Regions from separate parts of the Homo sapiens genome. Here region 1 is linked to region 2. A link means that fine-mapping ties the variant in region 2 to the expression of a gene that starts in the linked region. Tissue or cell type: fibroblasts. Region 2 holds a variant in brackets; the other region holds the start of a gene. All regions are shown on one strand. Distances are between the middles of the regions. Region 1 holds the start of HOPX (HOP homeobox). Region 2 has its middle 40 kb from the start of HOPX.

Region 1 (8,340 bases), 41 kb before region 2:
TTTGGGAGGCCAAGGGGGGCGGATCATTTAAGGCCAGGGGTTCAAGGCCAGCCTGACCAACATAATGAAACCTTGTTCCCATTAAAAATACTATATATATATTATATTATATATTATATTATATGTTATATATTATATTATATATTATATATTATATTATTATATTATATATTAATATATTAATATTAATATATATTAACATTAATATATAGTAATATATAATATATTGATATAATATATAATACAAATAATATATTATATAATATATAATACAAATAATATATTATATAATATATAATACATCATATAATATATAATACATTATATATAATACATTATAATACATTATATATAATACAATATAATACATTATATATAATACATTATATATAACATATATGTGTGTGTGAGTGTGTGTGTATATATATATGTATATATATATAGAAAACTATTTTAGCTGGACATGCTGGTGGAGGTTGCAGTGAGCCCAGATCGCACCACTGCACTCCAGCCTGGGTGACAGAGCGAGTCTCTGTCTCAAAAAAAGAATCTAGTATATACAGTGAACCGAAAGGATGACTTAATAATTACCATGCCTACAACAAACTACAAAGAATACAGAGTGTGATTATGTCATAGCTTCCACTCCCTTCTCAGCAGGAAACCTGAGAAGTCCTTTGCCAGGAGGAGCCAAGGGAAATGTCTCTATCCTCAGTCGGTTGGCATCCTTTTCTTTGTCCAGGTTCTCTGCCATTGGCTGATCCTCTTCTGCTTCCCACACTGTTCTACGTGCCAGCCAGGTTGGGCCAGGAAGGGCTCTCTGGGAGTTCGAACTGCCACAGCATCTGCAAAATTCTCGGCCTCTCTGCTTGCAAGTTCACACCTTGGGGGCAGAATTCTCAGCAAGCTCGCCTCTATCCTCTGGCTACCCTCTTCCTCATTTGTTTCTGTATAGGTCAGATTTGGGCCCTTGGGAGGCTTAGAATCTTCACTGTGAATTTACTGAAATGTCCTTGGTAGTTTTGTGTTCCCCAAGAAATGGCTTTTCTCTCTTTGCATAATTTCTCAGGTCCGCATGCTCCCTATTCATATTTTGTGTGGGTTCCACAAAGATGACCAAGGATAGGAAAATCCAGCTTCTTCTTGTAACTATTAGCAGTAGCTACCCATTTATGGAGCGCCTACTATGTTCTGGGTATTATGTAAGTGCTTTACATATCTTTAGTCCTTACAACGAACTTGTGAGATAATTCTCATCAGTCCCATATTACAGATGAGGAAACAGAGAGAAGTTATATAAGTTACCCTTGATCAAATTGGTGGTAAGCAGAAGTAGTGGGACCTCATGCAAGTCTGCAGGATTGAGAAGCCCACACTCTTTCCTTTCCACCATTTGTCCAGTCACAGTAAACACTTACTGAAGCCCTTTCCTCCCCCAGGCATTGTTCCTCTCTTGCGGAGGAACATCCCACGACCCCATTCTTCCTCCTAATTCTCTTGATTTGAGCCATTGAAGAAAAGAGTTCCCAAAACCTGTGGCAAGGAAAAGGTTTAGAACAGCAAATAGAAGAAAAATAACACTTACTGTGGGTGGTAATTTGAAGTTTGTTAATCACCAGGGGAAAAAGAACTATGTGAGAATTACCATCTCAGCCATATGTCTCTAGTTTACATAACCCAGGCACTAGCTGGAGCTCTCAGGCAGAGGCAGAGGCAAACATGTGGGATCCTGGAATTCCACTGAAATATAATAGACAACAGGAGGAGCAGGAAAATGAGTCATGTTTTTATAATTAGTTGTGTTATTGGACCCAACTTCTCTAAGAAATCAACAGCATCATCCAATCCCATCTGGCACAGGAGAAGACAAGAGGCTGACAGATTGTGTGATAGTCCCTGGAAATCGGTGGTGATATAAAGACCTAGGATCTAAACCTGCAGGAAAAAAATTAGTGGCCAGCTACCTCCCTTATTTGCAGGCTGTTGAAATACTCTTAATTTTACTGAGAGCCAAAGCAAACTTATCTCACTGGGAAAAAAAAAAAAAAAAGCATAGAAAGAGAGAACTGATATAGTAAAACCCAATTGCCATGGCTGGACTGGTGCCCAAGCATGAAAGAAGTTTAGGTTATTGTATTTTAAAGGATCTCTTAGATTGGCAAAACTGTGGGTAGCACATTTCTGCTTCTTCACTAATAAATGAATCTTGATTTTGTTCAGATGATCAGAGCAATTTGTCTGGAGAAGGTGGATTCTTCCCTTAGACCCAGGAGAGGAACCATGATCAGCCTGATCCCTTTCCTCTTTGAAAATGATGGATTTAGCCAATGTGTTGGCTGACACAACCCAGTGCTCAGCAAGGAGACATAAGTGAAAGACTCCTAGTGATTTCTGAAAAGGTTTTCCTCTCTAACAAGGAAAGACACTTAGGAGAAAGAAAGCCTGGGACACTTTTTACCTGTCTTTGGATATTTTGTTTAAAGATATGATGAATGGAGCTACTGTAGCCATCTTACCACCATGAGGAGAGACAATGCTGTCACACTGAGAGCTACAAAATGAAAGATGGAAAAAGCTAGAGGTCTTGGTTTCATCACTGCACCCCCAATCAACCGGAACCATATACCTGCTACCTGCAGAGTCAAGTGATGTAAAAACTGCTTCATGGTTTCAATCACTTTTTCTTTAATCTCCATGATACACCGGATAAAGAGAAACAGCTTGAAGTTGACACATTATGCAAGAGAAAAAGAAATGTCTCATCTGAACCAGGATGAGACTCTGTTGATGCCAGGACCTCTATCTGTTGGGCTGTACTGCCTCCACGGGAATTTAGAAACTGAACAGATGGCACATATTTATTGAGCACCTACCAAGTGCCAGGCACTGTTCTGGATCACAGGAGTAAACAATGCAGAAAGGTCATTGTTGTCATGGAAATCACATTCTGGAAGACAGATGATAAACAAAAACACAATTAAGGATAGGTGAAAACACTCTTAGGCAACTTTCTAAGTATTGGTTCAAGCCAGTCCTGAGTGAAACCCTGACTCTGGAATCAGATAGAACTGGATTCAAATTCCACCCCCACCATTCACTGTGACCTTGGGAAAGTTATTTAGTCTTTCTGAGTATCAGTTTCCTCTTCTGTAAAATAACGATAATAAAAAAAACTAACTCAGCCGGGCATGGTGGCTCACGGCTGTAATCCCAGCACTTTGGGAGGCTGAGGCAGGAGGATCCCTTGAGCCCAGGAGTTTGAGACCAGCCTGGGCAACATGGTGTAATACTGTCTTTACAAAAAATTAGCCACTTCTGGTGGTGTGTGCCTGTGGTCCCAGCTACTTGGGAGGCTGAGGTGGGAGAATCACCTCAGCCCGGGAGGTCAAGGCTGCAGTGAGCCAAGATCGTGTCACTGCACTCCAGCCTGAGTGAAAAACAAAAAACAATACAACCTCATAGGGTTATTGTATTACATATTAAATAAGCAGACAAACTCTCTGTACAGTCCTTACATGGAGCCTGACACACAGTCAGTCTTACTAGATTATGGATCATCACCATTGTCATCATCATAATAATTTGTGCTGTCATAGTAATAATTTGTGCAACAACAATAATAATAATAATGCTGTGGGTATCAAATGATAAACAAGACATAGACCCTGCCCATTCAAAAAATCGTGGCAGCAAGAATCCAGATTTGGCCATAGAATGGTCAGAAGTTAGGCATTGAATTAGGCAGGAAACAAAAGAATTCCTCTGGTAACCAAGGTTGGGTTAACCTGGGCCCCCTGTCTCTACTCTTTCCCACACATGTTTTATAACCGTCACCCCCTTTTCCAAGAGGGAAAGAGGTATTCTGAATGAGCGCTGCTCTTCTTTCACATATGGCTACTGTTCCCAAGAGACTCAAGTGGGCTTTCTCTTTCTCTGCTGAAGTGAATAATATAGGGTGTGGCTCTCTGGATGGCACTTACCGGTTTGTGCTACAAACCAGCAAATACACACAGATAATCCCACAGATGATCTCACCAGACCTTGTCTCCCTTCCCTCATTCCCTCAAAATCATACCCACCTAATAATGTTTAGTGCACTGCAATTGAGTATTAGCTCCCGTATCTAGCTAATAAAATACGTAAACATCCAACAGCCGGGTCCTCACACCCACACACATACCCTCGCCTTTAGAAACATTTCCACGGATTGTCACACGAGCCCCTAAACTCTCTGTCACACTCTGCATGCATCTTCCCACAGACTTGCTCACACACTGGCTTTTTATTCGCAAGCCCATGGGGAATCTTTCACCTCTTAGACAGGAATTTCATTAACGAAGGGGAGGGGATGGTAAGAGGAAAGTACAGATGCAGGGGAAATAAATGAGAATCGTTTTTGAGGGAGACCTAAAACTGTATCATCCTAGCCCGAATCTCTCCCTTTTAACTGTTCTTTATGTGTACATTCTGTGCCCAAAAGAAAACAACCTTTCATTAATTGGGCAATTGTCCAGGCTCTTAGCTTGGCATCCAGCTCTCAGAGCTGTGAAATCAACCGCACCAGATCTACGCTTTGAAATGAGGCAACATCTAACTGGAAACTCGCTCAAAGTAAGGAAGTGGATGAGAAGACTCAGGGTCCCTTTTCTCTTCCCCGTCTTCTCTCAGCCACATCTCTCTTATCCTATCTTGGTGAAGAAGCTTGCTTGGCTAGGAGAGAGGTCAGGGACGAGAAGATAGTGACGAGAAAGTTCCATGAGACTCTCAGAAGTCCCAGCCTGAACATCAAACCTGAATAACCAGGAGAGACGTAACCTCGGCATACTTTCAGTGGTTTACCTCCTGCCCACGCTGCAGGTTTTTCAGGTCCTTGCTCGAGTGTGTGCTCATAGGCGTAAATAAACGTGCTATCAGCAGCCTGCGTCAGCCAGCCCAGCTATTTAAGCAGGCTGGCATCAGCAAACACAGCTTCCAAACCCAGGGCTTGCGCTTGCCTTTGCCTCTTCCACGTAAGTACCTTTCAAAGGTCTGCCTTTTATGCAGAGGAATGAGTTTGTGCAGGAACTAGACCAAAATGCTATCGTTACCGTATTTGCTCATCTGTTGGAAAACGGTAGAGGTGAAAGGGAGAATAGGAATGACAAGCTTACCCCCAAGCAGAAGCTAGGAAATGCTGCTGGGTGTAAGACATCAGTCCCTTACAAACAAAACTGCATGGGGTCGAGGGGAATTTGGAGGAAGGGGAGTTGGTGTTGGTCTTTTGGCCAAGCAGGTGAGATGTTTTTCTTACTCGCTTCTATTTTGGAAAGATAACTTTGAAACCAGCATTTGTCAGATGCCTATGATTTTCTCATTTAGAAGCAGATTATTGTTATTCTACATCCCAGACTTTTATCTAAAATCAGACATAATATCGTTTTAAAATATGTTTTGTGTTTGACAAGGGGAAGTGAGGGAGCTGTCTCTGGATGGAGAAGTGGCTTGATTTTGAATTTGCAGTTTATTGTTACTTCTGGTTCTCATAATACTTATTTATAACAACAAAAACAGTGATTTTTTTTTTTTGAGATGAAAAGGAATCCCAGGCTCTGGGGTTTAGAGAAAGTATAGGTTTGTGATATGTGAGTGGCATCCAAGTATTCAGGGTAAACTGTTAAGTAAAGTGGAATAAGAATCATTGAATAAAAAGGTACAATCTATCACATAGTTCAGATAAGAAGCTCTTAAAGAGAAAAGGAATGCAAACAGTTCCCATGAAGTGGCACTGCTACTGGACAGGGCCCTGTAGTGTGTTTAGTTAAGTAAGGTTAAGTATAACCAGGGCAGGCAGAGAACAAAACGAAGGTGCTGGGGAGGTGGGAAGGGAGGAGAAGGGAGGAGCAGATAGTAAAGGATTTATAATTAAACAACAGATTCATGAAAAGCAGATAGGAATAGAGCAGGGCATTAATTCCATAGTCTATCCCTTTGTATCAAGAATCTGGTGAAAGCCAAGGACCTTTCTCAGGTATTCATTCCTCGCTTCCTGAGCCTCCCCTTCCACCCCACACCCCAACCCACACCTTGACTCTCACTTTCTGGACTCCTAGAAGTCCACGGACCTAAATGAAGCTCATATGCTTATTATTATTTTTTTTTAACTGGGCTGAAGCTGCCGACTGAGGAACCTCTCCAGAAGTGGTGGCGAGTTAAAAACCTTCAACGTGGCAGGCACTTCTTAGCCACCAAACTGAAGCTTGGTTTTAAGTTCATGAAGGTCTTATGTCAATCAAGCAAATAATGATTAAGGGCTATATCTGAGAAAAGATAAGTTGAAGGCCAAGAGGAAGAGAAAAGAAAAAATGGATCTTGTTCTCAAAGAGCTTGAAATCTAAAGTCCAGGGAGATAATTAGATGTTATGTCCATGCACAAAATAGGATGTGTTGAGTGATTACATTTGTATAAAATGATAGAAAATGCAAACTAATCTATAGCAAAAAGAAAGTGGCTGGGTGCGGTGGCCCACGCCTGTAATCCCAGCACTTTGGGAGGCCGAGGTGAGCGGATCACTTGAGGTCAGGAGTTTGAGACCAGCCTGGCCAATATAGTGAAACCCCGTCTCTACTAAAAATACAAAAATTAGGCGGGCTTGGTGGTGGGCACCTGTAATCCCAGCTACTCGGGAGGCTGAGACAGGATAATTGCTTGAACCCGGGAGGCGGAGGTTGCAGTGAGCTGAGATTGTACCACTGCGCTCCAGCCTGGGCGACAGAGCAAGATTCTGTCTTAAGAAAAAAAAAAAAAAGAAAGAAAGAAGATCCATGGTTACTTGGGAAGGTAGGGGCAGGAGAAAAAATGTTTGGGGGGACTCCCAAGGTACACAGGAAACTTTTGAGGGTGATGGATATGTTCATTATTGTGACTGTGACCATTTCTTATATGGGAAGATTTATCAAATTGTGTACTTTAAACATTCAGTATTATAGCTGATTACTCCCAACAAACAATACTTTAACCACATTATTTTTATTTTTATTTTTTTGAGATAGGATCTCACTCTGTCACCCAGGCTGGAGTGCAGTAGCACGATCTCGGCTCACTGCAGCCTCTGCCTCCCAGGCTCAAGCAATCCTCCCACCTCAGCCTCCCAAGTAGCTGGGAACACAGACTTGTGCCACCACACCCAGCTGTAGAGATGGGGTTTTGCTATGTTGCCCAGGCTAGTCCCAAACTCCTGAGCTCAAGCGATCTGCCTGCCTTGGCCTCCCAAAGTGCTGGGATTACAGGTGTGAGCCACTGTGCCTAACCAACAATATAATTTTTAAATAAGTAAAAGCATTTCTAAAAATCAGCCTATGTAACATGCTGAACATAAAAGATGAGTATTTATGGAGAAAAAAATAAATTCAGTAAAGCACAGAGACCAGACAGTAAGGATCATAGACTTTTATAGAACTGGGAGGGTCCCTGGAGATAATCTAACCTAGTGGTTGTGGGGCCTGGAGAACTTAAAAAAGAAAAAAAAAATCAGTGACTGGGGCAGGGCATGGTGGCTCATGCCTGTAACCCCAGCACTTTGAGAGGCTGAGGCGGGTGGATCACCTAAGGTCAGGAGTTCGAGACCAGCTTGACCAACATGGTGAAACCTCATCTTTACTAAAATACAAAAATTATTCTGGGCATTGTGGTGAGCGCCTGTAATCCCAGCTACTTGGGAGGCTGAGGCAGGAAAATCGCTTGAATCTGGGAGGCAGAGGTTGCAGTGAGCGGAGATCGTGCCACTGCACTCCTGCCTGGGTGGCAGAGCAAGACTCCGTCTCAAAAAAAAAAAAAAAAAAAAAAAAATCAGTGACTAGGCCCCACCCTGGACCAATTAAATCAGAATCCCCAGGTGTGCAGCCCTGGGATTGGTTTTTAAAGTTCCCCAGGTGAGTCTAATGTGCAGCTAGGGATGAAAACCAGTGAAATCAAAACCATTCACTTGACAGATAAGGACAGTAAGGGCCAAAGAGAGGATGGGGATGGCCCCATGCCACCTGACCACCAAGTCCGAGAGTAGGATGAGGCTTGGGAGGCTCAGGGAACACAGCAACAGAGGCTCAAAGGTAAAGAAAGAGGCTGCTTCTGGACACTCCCAGCTCCAGCGAGGATAGGGTATCCAGCACCTTCCAAGCGAATCCTTGGAACCCAGACATGCTGCGGGGCAGCAAACTAGAAGAATTACTCAGGGCCTCCAAGGTGCATTATTAAAGGATTGTGCTAATGAGTGAGAAGGGATGTTTCAAAACTAAAGCTTCCTTTTTTTCCCGATTAATATCTGGCATAAGTAGAGGATTCTAATTATTGAAAGGAATCCCAGT
Region 2 (8,340 bases):
CAGTTGCAGACACTGTAGGTTAGCTGGACCCATCATCATACCCAAGCCCCTTCTCTGTTGTCACACTTCTTTCATGAGACTGTAAGGGCTGGAAACATTAAATCCTCTCTTTTCCATTCTCCCTTGAGGCTGTGTGGTCACATGACACAGTCTATCCAACAAGGATCAGGTCAAAGGCGGGAGGTCAAAAAGCCTTTGGGGAAGGCTTTTGCATTTCTTGATAAAAGGGACTTAAGCAGCAGGTTCTGTTCTTCACTCCTTTCTTGCCTTGTACCATTTTCAGTTGTTCATTGTAGAAATAGAAATAAGCAAAAAAAGAAAAGAAAGAAATGATAAAACCAACAAAACTCATAAAAATTACACATGATCGGGCTCCAAAAATTAGGGAGAGGGAAACCCCTGCCTAATGAAACTAATAAATGTTTAAAACACTGTAAAAAATTACCCATGATCCCACCACACAGAGGTAACGTCTTACTAACCTTAATATTATGCTATATCATATTGGGGGAAGGCATGTTTTCTATGCATAAATACACATGCAACAGGGAGAAGAACTTAATTCAGAAGCTAGCAGCAGATTGAACCATTGTTCTGAGAGGATGGAAGGATGCTTCCTAAGGAAAAAATTGGCTGTCTTGTTCAGGAAAACATATTTTTTTTTTTTATTTGAGATGAAGTTTTGCTCTTATTGCCCAGACTGGAGTGCAATGGCTCAAATCTCGGCTCACTGCAACCTTTGCCTCCCGAGTTCATGCGATTCTCCTGCCTCAGCCTCCCCAGTAGCTGGGATTATAGGCGCATGCCACCACACCCAGCCAATTTTTGTATTTTTAATAGAGACAGGCGTTTACCATGTTGGCCAGGCTGATCTGGAACTCCTGACCTCAGGTGGCCTGCCCGCCTCAGTCTCCCAAAGTGCTGGGATTATAGGCATAAGCCACCACACCCGGCCTAGGAAAACATCTTAATAGTTTTGGGGGCTGTGAAATATAGGTCTAGAAGACGAGGAAAAAAGAACTCAGTGGCTGTGCACAATAAAATACCATTTGTCCCACGGAGATTCAGGTAGGATGACGTTTAGGATCCATGGGCACTTGGAGAATGGAGAGGTGGAGGAGAACGATTTGGTAAGGGACGGCAGGCACAATGTCAGCTGACCCAGAAGGCACCAGTGAGAGGCTGGTGGACTGGGCTTAGGAACTTTAAAATATCAAATGTTCTATTTTCAATGACTATCTATACAGTGCTGGGCTTGCTGTCACTATGCTGTAATTGTTTTTTGCTGTCTTCAACCTTCCCAACAGCTCTGTCTCACAAAATGGCCTTGTACTGGTGATGCTTTAGGGATTGGGGAAGGATCTGCTTGAGCCGCGCTTGCAGGAGGCCGTAGACAGTGAAAGTGCTGGCTTCTGTCTGCCTCTTTTCTGGTAATAGCACCTTCACATTTGGGGAACTACTTCTACTTCATGTGGTCCTGATAGAGCCGTTAATCACAGTTCCCCAGATTTCTCCCCCCATGACAGTTAGACCCAGGCTGGCCAATGACAGCGTCATAACCCTTGGCATACATGAACTGAACCAAGTATGGGCTCTCGACCTCCCAGGTTCAAGGGATCCTCCTACCTTAACTTCTCTAGTAGCTTGGGCTACAGGCATGCACCACCATACCTGGCTAATTTTTTTTTTTTCTTGAGATGGGATCTCACTATGTTGCCTAGGCTGGGCCAAAGTCCTTTGCCAGAATTGTTGCAATTGGACCTGGAGAGATGGTTCTACATTGTCACCTTTCATGGAGAGTTGTGAAGATGGAGGGCTGGGGCTGCAGGTAGCCTTTGACTCGGACTCATGGAGAAAGCCATTCTGTAAAGGGAGGGAATGAAGCCAGGCAGATGGGAATGAGAAAGTCCTGAGGCCTTGGTTCCCACTCTTCCCTGGGCTACCCCAGCCTTCCTGGCTCTGTGAACTAGTGAATCCCTTTCTCAGTGTATCTGTCATTTGTAATAAAAAAGAGCCCTTACTAATGGGAGAGCAAATAAAGGAAGAGAGAAGTGCATGGAGGGAGGAATCTCAGCCCCTAGTGTAATTAAGAATATAGGGGAACCAGAGATTCATAGTAAGAGGTAACCAGAAGTAGCACTAGATTTTTCTCAGCCAATGGGAACTTGAGAAAAATTATTTTTACATACTAAAAGAAAAGATAACCCCTGACAAGTGGAGAATTTATGGACCTCAAGGGGTTACATAATTTTTAAAACTATATACAAATGTATGGCAGATAAGTTACCCTCTTTTTTTTTTTTTTTTTAAGAGAAAAGGTCTCAGCTGGGCATGGTGGTTCACACCTGTAATCCCAGAACTGTGGGAGGCTGAGGTGGGCAGATCGCTTGAGCCCAGGACTTTGAGACCAGCCTGGGCAATAGTGAGACCTCATCTCTATTTCAAAATTTAAAATTAAAAAACAAATAGAGACATAATCTTGCTTTGTCACCCAGGCTACATAGAATATGGTGGTGCAATCATAGCTCACTGCAGCCTTGATCTCCCTGGATCAAGGGATCCTCCTGCCTTAGCCTTCAGAGTAGCTGGGATTACAGGCACCTGCCACCACACGTGGCTATTTTTTTTCTTTCTTGACAGCCCAAGCTGGTCACGAACTTCTGGGCTCAAGTAATCTTTCTGCCTCATCTCCCAGTGTGCTGGGATTACAGGTGTGAGCCACTGCACCTGGCCTGTTACCTTCTTGGAGACTTTTTGCTACTCTCTCTCAACTCTGGTCCTCATGTGTAAACTTTGTTCCACATCTTCTATTGTCCACTGAAAGGTCCTTTAAAAACCTCATATTGGGAGGCCAAGGCGGGCGGATCACGAGGTCAGGAGATCGAGACCATCCTGGCTAACACGGTGAAACCCCGTCTCTACTAAAAATACAAAAAAAAATAGCCAGGCGTGATGGTGGGCGCCTGTAGTCCCAGCTACTCGGGAGGCTAAGGCAGGAGAATGGCGTGAACCCGGAAGGCGGAGCTTGCAGTGAGCCGAGATTGCGCCACTGCACTCCAGCCTGGGCCACAGAGCGAGACTCCGTCTCAAAAAAAAAAAAAAAAAAAAAAAAAAACCTCATATCAACTGTTCAAATGTATCCTTGTCTCAACTCAATGTCAGAGTGACTAATAACAATTGTGGTAATAATACAAATAATTTGAAATTTCACATTCTTTTCCCATGATGGACGTGCTAAGAGGTAGTGAAGTGGACACAAGTCAGGCAAGGATCCGGGACATCAGCCACAGCTTATATTGGCAAGGCAGGAGATAAGATTTTTGGTTTTATGAAACCTGGCATTATGAGCCTGGTGAGCTCTATAGAAACAATTATAGAAACAGAGGAGCAAAGGTTCCTAGAGACCCTCTCCTTTACCTTCACCAAGACAATTGTATCATTACAGATAGTGAGTGCTGCTGCATGAGGAATGTGCTCCTGTAAACAAATATCAATGTGGCTTCTTAGAAGAGTCTGCCAACTAAACTTAGAAAAACATAAGAAACGTTTATTTGAATCTCAACTTATATAACTCATCCAACTACTAAATGCAATGACAAACTGACTCATGGTTCATATGAATCAGCCCTAGC[A/G]TTCCAGATTAGTAATGCAGAAGGCGTTTCTTTCTTCTTTCTTTCTTCTTCCAGATAGAAGCTCTCTCTTCCCACTCCTGTAAAAAAAAAAAAAAAAAAAAAAAAAAAAAAAGCTCTTTAGATAGAAACTTGGCATTCTCTGGGAGTGAAGAAGTCAAGTGTCCTGGGATAGTGACCCTAAGAGGAAGAATCCTCAGGGGCACAGGAACTGTAATCTAGAGAAATAGTTTCATTTCATGTATTCATGTATGAAAAGGAGACTACATATGTGTATTTATGTAGCTAGAAGGGCAGGTTAAGGGAGAGAATTCTGATTGTCCCCTAGCTCTTTTTCCCTTCTTTCAGTAGTTTTATCTGGGAGATGGCTGCGTGTCTAAAGTCTACGTTTTCTCACTTACTTTATAGTCAGGTTTTTAGCCAGCCCCCAAGATGCCTCCAACAATCTCTGCCTCCTGGTATTCACACCTCTGCATAGTCCCTGCCCACATTGTGCCACAGAATTGGTACATTGTGCCACAGAATTGACTAACACAATTAAGCAGAAATACTTCTAGGTCACTTCTGAGATTAGGTTCTAAAGGACACTAAGCTTTCTCTCTATCTCTCTCTCTCTCTCTCTCTCTCTCTCTCTTCCCCCTGGGATTACTTGCTCTGGGAGAAGCATGTTGAGCAGCTCTACATGTTGAGAAGCTCATGTGGCAAAGAACAGAGGCCTCCTGACAACAGCCAGTGAGGAGGTGAGCTCTGCCAACAACCAAGTAAGTAAGCTTAGAAGTACATCCTCCAGACCCTGTTGAGCCTTCAGATAACTGCAGCGCCTTAGCCACTACCACTCAGCTAAGCTGCTCCTGAAATTATTTGATATCATAAATGTTTGTTGTTTTAATCTGCTAAGCTTTGGGATAATTCGTTATGCAGCAATAGATAACTAGAACATTACGTGTGGCCAAGAAAGTAATATGTGCACTTCAGGGTCATGCCTCTAAAAGGAATAAGTATGCTTTCTTGTTTCTCCTTCCCACTTCCTAGAATGCAAGCATAGTAATGAGCCATCTTACTGTCGAAGCTGCATGGGTGACAGCAACACCTTAGGGTTGGAGGACAACCATGCAGAAAGAGCCTGAGTCTCTGCATTATTCAGGAAATACTAGGTTTAACTGCACTAACAAAAAACCTCCAGTCTTAGTGTTTTCAAAGCAGTGGTTTATTTCCAACTCCCTCAAATCTGCTGCAGCTCTGGGCTTCTAGACTTGCAGTTTAGCAGTGACTACGTTCTTCTTCTCAAGACAATGGCCTCTATCAGGAGGGCCCTCTACACAGCTACAGGTCTCTCCAGCTTTTGGTAACATCTTCTTCCCCTTGACCCTCCCTTTGACCCAAGCCTAGAGGTGGTAACTGTTGTTAGCCCCAATGCTTCACTATCCCTTGTTGGTGTCCCTTAATATTCTTCATACCTTTGTAGAGTTCCTTCATTAAACTGCCTTCAATTACCTCTGCCATCTATTTTCTGTCAATATCCTGACCTATCCAATCCTTCTTCCTCAAATGATAGCTACTAGTCAAAACAGCCAATAACATAAGAAATGGAAAGACATGTAAGTCCCAAAGGATGATCTTTTAGATTATAAGCAGAGCGAACATGCACTAGCACCCAAGTCTCACAGTGCATAGAAAAGATATCCCCTTTGTTGTCATCATCAAGATAGTGAGAAGCAGTGGCATCCAAAATATCTGTGAATCTAGGCCAAATCATTCCAGTAAAAAGCTATTTGACCTACTTATTCCAAAATTAAAGCTTATTCCAAAATATTTTCAATATTCAGTTCAAGTATTATTGACATACCAATTAATTCCTCAGCTGGGCTTCCACTGAGTTCAGGCAGAAAGTTCTAAATTAGGGCATGAAGTTTGCCAGGTTTCTGTTTTGAACAAGTGTATTAGTCCATTCTCACACTGCTACAAAGGTACTACCTGAGACTGGGTAATTTATAAGGAAAAGAGGTTTAATTGACTCACAATTCCACATGGCTAAGGAGGCCTCAGGAAACTTACAGTCATGGCGGAAGGCAAAGGGGAAGCAAAGACGTTCTTTACATTGCGGCAGATAAGACAGAGCTAGCAAGAGCAGGGAAAACTGCCTTACCAAACCATCAGATTCATGAGAACTCACTCACTATCATGAGAACAGCATGGGGGAAACCAATTCCATGGTCCAATCACTTCCCACCTAATTCCTCCCTCAACACCTGGGGATTACAACTCAAGATGAGGTTCGAGAGGGGACACAAGGTTCGGGGAGGCCTCCAAAAATCTCACCAGCCACAAAGTATAGCTCACAGCCCAACTCATTGCATGGTGGGGGAAAAAAAACAAAAAAACAAAAGAGGAGGAAAGAGAGAGAGGAGAGAGGGAGGCTGACGAGGTTCACAGAAAGAAAGCTGACTCTTCAAATGAGGAGACGCCTCTTCTACATTAAAAGCAAACAAACAAACAGCCTCATTTGGAAGTCCTCCCTGAGGGGCCACAGGTAGGGGACCTAGAGAAAGATAACCTCATCCAGAATAGAGAATGCGACTTTGCTCCAAACACATCAGCTTCCAACAGGGAATCTGCAGTGGCCAAAGGGGCCGCCAACAAGATAATGGAATATGATTGTTGTCCACAAAGATGCCTAGGACAGAAATTCCTGTAGGATCAACAACACAGCTAGGAAGAAAATGAAAAAGTCAGATTCTTCATCCATTTATTGAAATATTCACCAAGGCTGGGTATGGTGGCTCATGCCTATAATCCCAGCACTTTGGGAGGCTGAGGCAGATGGATATCCAGAGCTCAGGGGTTGGAGACCAGCCTGGGAAACAGGGAGAAACCCCATCTCTACCAAAAATGCAAAAAAAAAAAAAATTTAGCTGGGTGTGGCAGTGCACACCTGTGGTCTCAGCTACTTGGGAGGCTAAGGTGGGAAGATCACTTGAGCCCAGGGGGCAGATGTTGCAGTGAGTCGAGCTCGTGCCACTACACTCTAACCTGGGTGACTGAGTGAGACCCCACCTCAAAAAAAGAAAACAAAGGAAAGAAAGAAAGACAGAGCAAGAAAGAGAGAAAGAAAGAAAAGAGAAAGAAAGAAAGAAAGAAAGAAAGAAAGAAAGAAAGAAGGAAAGAAAGAAAAAAAAAAGAAAATTCACCCATTCTAATCCACAACAAACAATGAAAACAAAATTCAAAATCATGCATACTTGTTAAGATACTTTTTGCTACAAGTGACTGAATACTCAACTGAAAGTGGCATATCAGGTTTTTTGTTTTTCTGTAGGTCATTCCAGGTTCAGTTAATTCAACAGCCTGACTAGGCCAGAGCTCTCAATCATCCTTTCTGGGATTCTCTTCTCTTTCTCCTCATGGTCCCAAGATGATTGCTCCAGTTCCAAGCATCACATCCTACATGACATCATCCAAACACAGGAAAGGTCCTGGCTTTATTTTCAGGCATCTCTCATTTTATTTTATCACAGAGGAAAAGCCTTTTCCCAGAAGCTCCTTAGCAGTCTTCCCTTACCTCTCAGTGTCTGGAGTTGGGCCACATGCCCACTCCATGCCTATAATTGGTAAAGACAATCAGCACTTGGAACAGACTGGCACATAGCAGGAGCTTATTAAATATTTGTTGAATGAATGAAAGGTGGATTGGATTACCATGGTTGGCTTAGACCAATTATAGCCCATTTCCTAGAGCCCATTTTCCTAGAACACATTGTTGACTAATGGCTGAAGAAAACTGGCATTTTCTTATCAAGGAAGAAGGAAGGAACGGCTATTGGACAGTCAATAGTGTATGCCACATTATGCTATTTCTTAAAGCAGGGAACCAGAGCAACCCATTAAAAGGGCTTATTGTTTTCTAATGGTTACCTTGTAAAAAAGTGTTTTTGGATTTAAACAAATTGTTCATGCAAGGGGTATCTCATTAGTGAACAAGTTACACTATTCTAAAGAGAAATGGACTTTTTTTTTCTGCTCCAGCTTAGACATCAGTTCGTACAGATATTCTCCCTGCCTAAACCCCATCTGGGTTGGGTATCCTTCTTCTATGTTATCAGGCACTCTACCTCCCCATGTTACAGCAGTTACCACACTGGATTATATCCACTTATTTATTCTGTTTCCTGCAGTACAGGCTGTTACATGTTCACCAAATCATGTTTTCTTTTCTTGTGTGCTACCTTTCTCAATCCCCTTTGCAGTTAGGTGTGGCCATGTGACTGAGTCTGGTCAATGGAATGTGAGTAAAGTAGTGTATACCACTTTCAAGCTTGGCCATAAAAACTACCTGTGCAATCTCCTGGCTTTCTCTTTCTTAATCTGCTGGCTTAATGGAGAAGACTTTGTGGACATAAAAAAATATGGAAGGAGGCTGGGATCCTGAAGGACTGCATGGAACAGAATACCTGTCTTCTCAGCAATCCACACTATTCTAAGATGAACTTGGTGAAGAATGCATTTTTTATTGTGCTAAGCCACTGAGAATTGAGTATTTATGTGTTTTTGTTATGGTCGTTATCCAACTCTAACGAATACAGTTCCTCAGAATAAAAACTTACTGAAAGTAGAAATCTCTGTCTTGTTCACCATGCTTTCTTGCCCTACCTAGCACAGTGTCTGTCACATAATAGGCACTTAAGACACTTTTAAAAAATGAAATAAACGTAAT

The links.
Region 1: it holds the start of HOPX, and the variant in region 2 is fine-mapped to the expression of HOPX in fibroblasts (GTEx, PIP 0.99).

The regions. Positions count from the first base shown.
Region 1 is chr4:56,677,924-56,686,263 of GRCh38, reverse strand. HOPX (HOP homeobox) reads left to right here and starts at 4,968. Exons shown (of 4, transcript NM_032495.6): 1 at 4,968-5,009. It overlaps LOC105377666 (a long non-coding RNA gene), which reads right to left and starts at 3,031. Exons shown (of 3, transcript XR_941078.3): 1 at 2,874-3,031; 2 at 1,586-1,740. RefSeq lists a silencer at 4,921-4,970.
Region 2 is chr4:56,636,868-56,645,207 of GRCh38, reverse strand. No RefSeq gene overlaps it. Among named protein-coding and RNA genes, the nearest start is that of HOPX, 40 kb to the left of the region's middle. RefSeq lists an enhancer at 3,258-4,457. The variant A/G (reference allele first, on the strand shown) is at 3,633.